Regions from separate parts of the Homo sapiens genome. Here regions 2 and 3 are each reported to be linked to region 1. Evidence: microRNA targets listed by miRTarBase, many of them from high-throughput screens and not tested one by one. Region 1 holds a microRNA gene; each other region holds the end of a gene's coding sequence.
The links. Region 1 holds the annotated microRNA hsa-miR-513a-5p (UUCACAGGGAGGUGUCAU, at 1,438-1,455, shown strand). A microRNA usually pairs through its seed, bases 2 to 8, with sites in the 3' UTR of a target mRNA and lowers its output. Matches are read on the target gene's strand: a 7mer-m8 pairs with bases 2 to 8, a 7mer-A1 pairs with bases 2 to 7 and ends in A, and an 8mer does both.

Region 2: the mRNA of PROX2 is a reported target of hsa-miR-513a-5p. Seed matches in the 3' UTR shown: 7mer-A1 at 1,585-1,591.
Region 3: miRTarBase lists MED30 as a target of hsa-miR-513a-5p. Seed matches in the 3' UTR shown: 8mer at 2,578-2,585.

The regions. Positions count from the first base shown.
Region 1 is chrX:147,224,087-147,227,354 of GRCh38, reverse strand. It overlaps MIR513A2 (microRNA 513a-2), which reads left to right and starts at 1,403; the gene lies at 1,403-1,529. The region is part of intron 2 of LOC105373347 (periphilin-1); the gene reads right to left.
Region 2 is chr14:74,852,563-74,855,562 of GRCh38, forward strand. PROX2 (prospero homeobox 2) reads right to left here. Exons shown (of 6, transcript NM_001243007.2): 6 at 471-2,740. The coding sequence ends at 2,570. Among named protein-coding and RNA genes, the nearest start is that of PROX2, 22 kb to the right of the region's middle. RefSeq lists an enhancer at 2,119-3,000.
Region 3 is chr8:117,539,629-117,542,628 of GRCh38, reverse strand. MED30 (mediator complex subunit 30) reads right to left here. Exons shown (of 4, transcript NM_080651.4): 4 at 2,367-2,746. The coding sequence ends at 2,651. Among named protein-coding and RNA genes, the nearest start is that of MED30, 20 kb to the right of the region's middle.

The DNA of each region.
Region 1 (3,268 bases):
GATGTGCCAGGTTGCTGGAAAGACTCCTTTGAAGCTACTGAGGGGTGGGTGATGCAGAGGAAGAGAAGTAGTACCTGTACTGGTGTTTGAAGGAGGGAGTATTGTGTCTGTGTATTTTTTTCCCCTTGAGAACTTTTTGGGGAGATAGCTCAAGGGCCCAAATACTTAAGAGAAAAGCTAAATTGATTGATTGATTGATTGATATATATAAATATTTCTGTAGAATCTAACTTTGGTTGCTTTTCATGGAATTCAAAAAATGCAGTAAAATGCTTGAGATATTTAGAATCATTCTGTTCAGTGAACTATGGCTCCTTGACCGTGACTCAGCACTAACACTGAGCTATGTGCTTCTCTGTCTGTCTTTCAGGGGTTATGTTTAGTAGATGAATGAGAATGGTACATAGAAACACTCGGTCTTGACGATCATGTGGTCTGACTTCTACATGCTATCAAGGGCCAGAGCTAGAAGAATCCAGGTCTTTTAATTTGCCTCAGCTCATGATTATTTGTGTACATCACACACACACACACACACACACACACACACACACACACACACACATATATATATATATAGTTTTTTTTTGTTTTTTTTTTTTGAGAAAGAGTCTAACTAACTCTGTTGCCCAGGCTGGGGTGCAGTGGCATGATCTCGGCTCACTGCAACCTCCACCTCCCGGGTTCAAGTGATTCAGTGGCATGATCTCGGCTCACTGCAACCTCCACCTCCCGGGTTCAAGTGATTCTCCTGCCTCAGCAGCTGCGGTTACAGTTGCCCACCACCACACCCGGCTAATTTTTTGTATTTGTAGTAGAGATGGAATTTCACCACGTTGTCCAGGCTGGTCTCAAAATCCTGACCTCTGATGATCCACCAGCCTCAGCCTACCAGAGTGATGAGATTATATGTGTGACCCACTGCACCTGGCCTGATATTGAGGATTTTTAATGAGACAAGCAAATTAACGCGAAAACTAATGGGATAATCCAGACAAGGATTACACATCTCTGGGGAAGAGATGAAGTGAAATGTTATATTCTGGCTAAGCCTAAAATTTGTGTGTTAATTAGCCATTCGCGGTGGTATGTGCCTTTAATCCCAGCTACTTGGGAGGCTGAGGCAGGAGAAGTGCTTAGACACAGAAGGGGGAGGTTGCAGTGAGCCGAGATCACACCAATGCATGCCAGTCTGGGCGACAGAGCCAGACTTCATCTGAAAACAAAAACAAAAACAAAACAAAAATCTGCATGTTAAAATCTCACTTGGGGCAGGATGAAAAGGGGAGCGCCGGGGGCTACAAGTTGCATTGTCCCTTGGCATAAATCTTGGTGGCCATGCCAAGGCATACACCTATAGGGACTTGAAAAAAAACGGCATGAATAGGGAGCATTTGTTCTTGGATGCCACATTCAGCCATTCAGTGTGCAGTGCCTTTCACAGGGAGGTGTCATTTATGTGAACTAAAATATAAATTTCACCTTTCTGAGAAGGGTAATGTACAGCATGCACTGCATATGTGGTGTCCCTGAGGATGGGGGTGTAGCTGCGAGCATGGTGATGCCTGTTTTGCATCCTGTGCACCCACTCTTCAGTGCTGGGCTACTTCAGGGAACTTTTTGTGCCTTCTAAATGACTATACATAGGAACTGTGGACTCCTGAGAAAACGCATGCACTTCGGTTCCTTAAGAATTTATCTATTTTTGCCAAATGAGGCTTGGCTCAAATAAGAAATACATTGGATAGAGGCCACAGCCATTCTTCGTCAGCTGGAAGGCTATATTCCAGATTCCTAAACTTTTCTCACTTATCAAGAAGTCATCATTTGCAAGGATTCTCCTTTAGCGCTCCCAAAAGACTCTCCTGCCTCTCAGGTCCCTTCATTGCTGATCCACAGTGTCCATTTTCTGTCAAAGACTAAAACATTTTCTCATAGACTTTTAAAATACCTTTCAAAGCCTTCAGTCACCAATTTATGGAGGGTTAAGCGTAGTCCACCCAAGAATATTTCACCCTTTTCCATTATCTTTTTTCCCTGTTTTTTATGTTTGAACAATGGAAGCGTATGATAGAGTTGTTACTCAAGAGATATCTCCTAGTCTTCTCTCCCCATTTTCTGTCTTTTTTTTTTTTGAGATGGAGTCTTTCTTACTCTTTCACACAGGCTGGAGTGCAGTGGCGCCATCTCAGCTCACTGCAACCTCTGTCTCCCGGGTTCAAGCGATTCTTCTGCCTCAGCCTCCCAAGTAGCTGGGATTACAGGCGTGCGCCAACACACCTGGCTAATTTTTGTATTTTTAGTAGAGACCAGGTTTCACCACGTTGGTCAGACTGGTGTCGAACTGCTGACCTCGTGATCCACCCACCTCACCCTCCCAAATTGCTGGGATTACAGGCGTGAACCACCATGCCCGGCCCCATTTTCTTGTGTTGACACTTCTTAACTCAACCTAATGGAGAGAGAAAGAGGCAAATACGCACGTGCACAAGAGTAAGACAAGTGCCAGATGGTGTGAGGCCATCTGCAGCATGAAACTAGTATGCATTTTTTAGAAGTAGGTTATATATAAATAAGCTACTTATATTGGGGAAATGTGTTTAAAAATGTTATAAATAGTAAGTGATTGATTAATACAATTTTGATTCCAACGGAAATAGAGGTTACAGCATATACACCGAAAGAGAGAAACTATAAAAAAACAATTACTATATGGTTACAGGCAGGATTTTAGTTTATGTTTGTTTTTTTAGGTTCAGAATGGATGAATATGTATAAGACCATTAATGTCTGGAAGTAAAAAAAATCAGTTGAAGTATCTTTTTCAATATTAAAACAATTGTACTAATAGAATATATAGAACTTTTTTCATTGGAGGCGGGGGGACATTCTGAATAATAAAAAAAAATTCTGTCCGTTGGAAATACTGTATGTGTGTAGAAATTTCCAAAGTGATAACTCTTTTTAGCATATAATTTCTAAAACTGTATTAGAGAGAATTCATGTGTACTTAAATAAGTGATATCGTAAAATGAAACAAAGACAGAGAATTTAGTTATATCTCTTTTAGGATTTCTCAAAAAGAGTACTATCTCTTTTAGGATTTCTCAAAAAGAGTACTATATTCACTGGTATTTATGGTTTTTCTTTCAGTGAAATACTTTTTTGTATAAGAATGCTTGTGATTTTTGTACATTGATTTTGTATCCTGAGACTTTGCCGAAGTTGCTTATCAGCTTAAGGAGATTTTGGGCTGAGACAATGGGGT
Region 2 (3,000 bases), not on the chromosome of region 1:
GAGAGTAGCACCCAAGGCCGGGCACAGTGGCTCATGCCTATAATTCTAGCACTTTGGGAGGCTGAGGTGGGAGAATTGCTTGAGCCCAGCAGTTCGAGACCAGCCTGGGCAACATAGTGAGAACCCCATTGCTACAGAAAAATTTTAAAAACTTAGCTGGGCATGGTGACATGTGCCTGTAGTCCTAGCTACTCGAGAGGCAGAGGTGGGAGTATCACTTGAACCTGGGAGATCAAGGCTACTGTGATCGTGGCACTGTGCTCCAGCCTGAGTGAGAGAGTGAGACCCTGTCTCAAAAAAATAAAAGAATAGTGCCCTCATATACCTTAGTGGAAAAAATGACCAGATCTTTGGCAAAGTATGATTGCTAAAATAATAACCCACTCAGCTTACACTCCATGTGTTTCCAACAGAGAGGGATACGCACTTGATAGAAACAGAAAATTATAATCAAATAGAATTCTTCTGTTGGCAGAGCATACATATTTATACATTCTTCTGTGTTTAGCTCAGTGGTTAGAGAACACTTCCTGGAAAGACTGCAGTACACAAATGTTTTCAATTTGAGCTTGTACATTTCATCTCATTGGTCCCTGAGACAAGGTTCACTGCCCTGGAGGTGACTTGGCTCAGTCTTTAAACACACACTAATGAATTTCAGGTTTGGGACAGAAGAAGGGCTGCTCTCTATTGGACAGTCATGTGAACTTGTTTCCCCTGTATGTCTAACTTAGGTATGTAATGTCACTCTGGATAGAGGGTTCTTCTACTATGTCCGGACACAGAAAACTGATTGCCCTTGCTCAGAGCACTCCATGCTTGCCTGTGTTTAAAACTTAGGTTTGGCAGATTCCTTCATTTTTGTGAAAATAGGGCAAAGATCTTCTGAGTGCAATTGGATGTACTGGAGGGCACTTAACCTTTAGCCTGTAAAGATGGGTTTGGGCTAAGTCTGTTTTGTTTTTCCTTTCAGCTGTTTGAAGAGAAAATTCAAAGGAAAATTCATCTTTCATACTTTTTATGCTGATAGTTCTAGTAATAGTTTAGGGATTTTATCTCATCTGCTCCAGCAACACCCCACCAGAAAAATTATGGAAGTTGAGTAGCCGAATATGAAACTTGTTTTATATAGACAGGAAAGAAGCTAATGAACTCACAGACACCCCTTATCAGGACTACAAAGCCCGAGCTGTGTATTACCCCCACCCCACCCCACCCGGCGTACCTTTGGCAGTGCTTACAAAGACTTGATCCTGACTAGCTTAGAAGACAGATGCAGTTACTCAGCTTTGTACATGCCTTGCCTATATACTCAAGAGTGGGTCACAATTGTGCTGGGCCAGCAGCAGGGGGAAATGTTGATTTCATGAATTCCTTCATCAGTGGAAGGTCAGCCATGGACTGTAATTTTGTTATGGAGTGGGAGAATTTCCATTTCTGTGTGATGCTGCATTTGTCCCAGTTATGCCATTTATCATCTGCAAGGCTGTGCACAGCCTGTGCAAGCCTCCTGTCTGGACTGCGGTTCTTCCTTCCCAATTTAAGCAGCATGGGCCAGATGATCTCCTAAGGCCCTTTCTACCTTTCACAGTCTGAAGTTCAGCTTCTTCTGCATATATGAGGTTGGGGCACCAATTGCAATGGTCAGCTGGAGACTATTTGCATTATCCAGCTGATAAACTCTTCCAGCAGACAAATGTGAATAAACAGCAACACTCAAGTCCTGCATAAAGTTTGTCTTGAGTTTGCTGAAATGATCAGCAGAAATCTTGGGCGGTGAAGTGCTCCTAAGTGCTGGGCAGGAGTTGTCAGGTGACGGTGCCCTGTCAGCGCTGGATGCTTACTAGGGGTGGGGTCCTGCTTGAGATCCTGAGTTAGCTGCAGGAGATGGGTCCAGCATGCAGTTGGGCATCAGAAAGTCTTGGTTCCTCCAGGCTCCTGACTGTCCCTATCAACCCAGATGTCCTAGCCTCATAGGCTTTGGCGAGTTACCTTGCAGTTCTAAAGCTTCTGTTTGGTCATCTTTTAAATGATGATAATAACTACTTTTCAGGGTGAAAAGCTTAAAGTATGTGAAAGTATCTAGCAAATAGATGGCGCTTTATAATTAGGTGACTAAAAACAGCAATTTGTAAAAACCCCAAATAAGATAACCTTATCTGAAAGAGGGGCTCAAAAAACTGACATTTGTGTGTGAATGACATTGCATAGGACATACTGTCCTTTAATCCTTAACAACCTCATTTTACAGATACAGAGATACCAGGAAGTTCCCAGGGTCACAACACCTGGAAACAATGGAGTTGAGCTTCAAGTCTTCTGATTGGAAACTTGTGTTCCTTTTACAATATACTACCAATACACCAATATAGTTAGTACATTTTATAGTTAAATTTCTGATGATTCTGGAAAGGGAAATAAATGATCAAAATGGTAATAGTACCTGTTTTGATAGAGGAGATTTCCTTGTGCCCTTTTTATATGACTACAGCTAAATTGCCCTTTAAGACAAACCCAGGAAACCCTAGCCAGTCACTCCTCACGTTGTGGGATCTTAACCCCGAAACAGCTACTGGGGATAGCTGGAAGATTTGAATATCTCTGGGATGTCACTGTCCAGTTTCGAAATAATTTTATAAATGGGTTTCTTCCAGGAAGGATCTGAGTCTCTCCCTGCGGAGACAGCCCTGAAGAACTCCTGTAACGTCAAGCTGGCAATTTCCAAGAAGCAATCTGGAACCTGCATTTCCAAAGAGACCCACAAGAAAGAAAAGACGTGAGGTTGGGAAGCACTGGTGCCAGAGCCCTCACTAGCGGGTGCTGCCTGTTTCTTGGGTAGTGGGCTAGGAGCATCCCTGCTCTAGTGGCCCCTGATTCTGCAACCCTAGGACTCCTCTGCTTCCTCATCAGACACAAACCTTGATAAGACAGCTCCAGTGAGAAAGCCCTGGGAGAAGGTGAATTAAGGACACTTCCTTTGTAGGAGGAGCTGATCTCGCT
Region 3 (3,000 bases), not on the chromosome of region 1:
AATTCCCATGACAGTCAATGATGCATTTGATTTTCTGTAAACTTTTCTTGGGCTTCTGAAAGATTGGATAACTAGTATTATATCTGAGATAGTATTATAACCAAGAAAGAACAACAGTGGACTGTGGTTGCTGTTGTTTGTGGATTTTTTTTTTTTTTTTGCAAATTTTCCTGGTTGACCCCCTCTTTTTCGAATATTTGTTCCTTGCACAGTACACTCTTCCATAACTCCCATACCCGATTCCTGGCCACAAGAATGAGCTTATAACCTGGATTAGTCTAATCATACTACCCATTTATACTATCATTGGTCCATGGGTTGGTTATATAACCCAAACTTTTTAGAATTCATTCTAGGATTTCTCAATTTAGAGTTGGAGAAGCAACCTAGCTCTGGGCTCAGGATACAGCAAGGTGAAAGGACAGTGGAAGGCCATTTTCCCCACCACTTGGAAAAAACCGATCTGCAATGAGAGAGAATGGAGCAAACAGAGACAGACTAAAATTAGGGGTGGACACAGAATCCTGAGGGCACTGAAACTTGATTCCAATACCTGAAGCCCTGTTTCCTGCCATTTTCTTTTATTCTGTGAGCTCTTCTCTAGCATCTTTTCTCACTACAGGAACTAAGAAATCCCTTTTGGCTTAAGCCATTTAGAATTGGGTTCTAATATTTGCGACCAAAATTCTAACATAGAATATGAGATTATCTAGTCTCACCCATCATTTTACAGAAAACAGAGATTTACTTGCCCAAGGGAACACATTACAACAACTTAATTCACCTTTCTTTACTCCTCAATCTATTAGTATGCTCTCCTTCAAGAAAAAGTTGAAACTTTGAGAATTTGTGAGGTTCATGTATTTAATAAACCCTGCCACGTTCATAATTGGCCCCAAGTAGACTTGTGAATAACTGGGTAAACCCATGTCAGTTCTGAATTGTGAATATAACCTTTCAGAACTTGCTACAGCTCCGTAGCAGAGTGTAGCTGCATTGATTATTGTTCTACAGTAGAAATATTATTTATAGAACTAAGGCCAAAATAATACAATTTCCACATTCCCTCCAAGAGTTGAGTTTATGGCACCTTGAATAATCGTAGTTGAGTGTGATAATTAAAACAAAAACATTAGGTCAGAACATTTTAGAAGTGTCTTAGAAGACATCAATACAAAAATAAATTGACAAGAGTACCCAACGATAGTGCACTAAATTCATAATAGTGCAAAGAATATACAGTGAAAACCTAAAAAATCCTGCATGTCCAAATAAACTATAATACACTTAGATACTAAGAAGTACCACAGTAGGTTAGACTATTAGTCCTATTTCTTCTCCTTGTCACAGCTTCATACACCTTTTCATTCTGCCCTTTAACTCTGAAGAGCTTCCCACTGTAGGCAGTCAGCGCCCCATCTAACACTGGGCTTGCTCAGAACTGCCTTGACAAATGTCAAGTTGGAGGGTCTAAAGATGCTTGCATGGTTTGTCTTGTCTTCTTGTACTCTGTCTAGGTGGGAATCTGCATAAGTTAAAATGAAAAATAGTTTCCTGTTTTCTGAATAGCCAGTATTTGTACATGCTGTAAAATTCAAAAGGTACAAAATGATATACAATGAAAAGTCAGCACCTTCTTAATTCTGATCCTCAACTACCCACTTCCCCTCCCCAGAGGATGCCTATTACAGTTTCTTGTGTTACCTTCCAGAGAAACATTTAGAAGAAAAGCCCAAACAATATTTTTCATAGAGTCAGAACTGAGACCAGATAGAAGAGCCTTCTGAATCAAGCTGGAAAAGTCCTTTCTGAGAAGACTCCAACTCTTATTTGAGAATATATATTATTTGTAAGTTGAGAGATCAGCTCCCACAGGGAGACCTAAACAGGATTGACTATAGGCAAAAAAAAAAAAAAAAAAAAAAAAAATCACCTGTTATATAGAACTATCTCATTTAAAATCCCTGCAAATGTACTGTTTCCAAAACACACTTATGATTACTTTAGGGTATACCTAAAAAATTAGGTAAGTGATTGCTTCTTAGCTTAAAGCACATAGCAGATAAGCACACAGTTGTGATTTCAATTTGTGCTGTCCTTAGATCATTAGTTTCTCTCCTTTTAGAGACAGATCATTTAAGACCAAACACTGGAGGAATATGTTAATTTTCATCTATTCATAGAAATATACATTTTAATTGGCTTGGCAATAACATTGAATTTAAAAACTTGAGCTGATATGGTAATATATCTTTAATTTTGATTTGTATACAGATTGACTGTATTTGATACTTTTATCTGCAGAAATATTTAAATATTTTTCTTCTAAAAGGGTAATTGGAATGAGTAAATCCATTAATCAAATATTAACATTTATTTAAAAAACTTTATTTTGCTTTAAAAAAACAATTATTCAATTCATGAAGATTAACCAAAATACAAACCCCATCAAAGTTTATTACAATAATCTTTCATAAAATAGCATTAAAAAAAGTTAATATTTTAATGTAAAAATCACAATGTAAAAATAAAAACTTTAGTTTTAGTGACTAAAATAAAAGCAGATAAATAATCTTCTTCACAGGGAAAAAATACTTGAGGGAAAAAACAATGGTATAACATGTGTAAAGCAGGAAATTTAAATATCAGCTTAGTTCCTCATTGCCAACATGGCATTTATATCCCAGATGAGATTTCGTAATTGATCCATAATTTGTTTCAGCTGTTGATTCTTCTGTTTGAGTTTCTGTAGAAACAAAAGAATTTATCAAAAATGTTTCAGGAAATATAGACCATGAAGTTAGAAGATTAAAATATCATAAGTTAGGATTATAATGATACAGACAGAAATTAAGCTAAATAACCCTATAAGGCAGATGGTCTCAACCCTCTTCTGGCCTTAAATATTTGCTGACAGGGATCCTGAATTCTAAAAATCCAGCCTGCAGAGGTCTATGGCCCCAGCCCCGGCCCCAGGCCCTGCTTACTCTTCCACTTCCA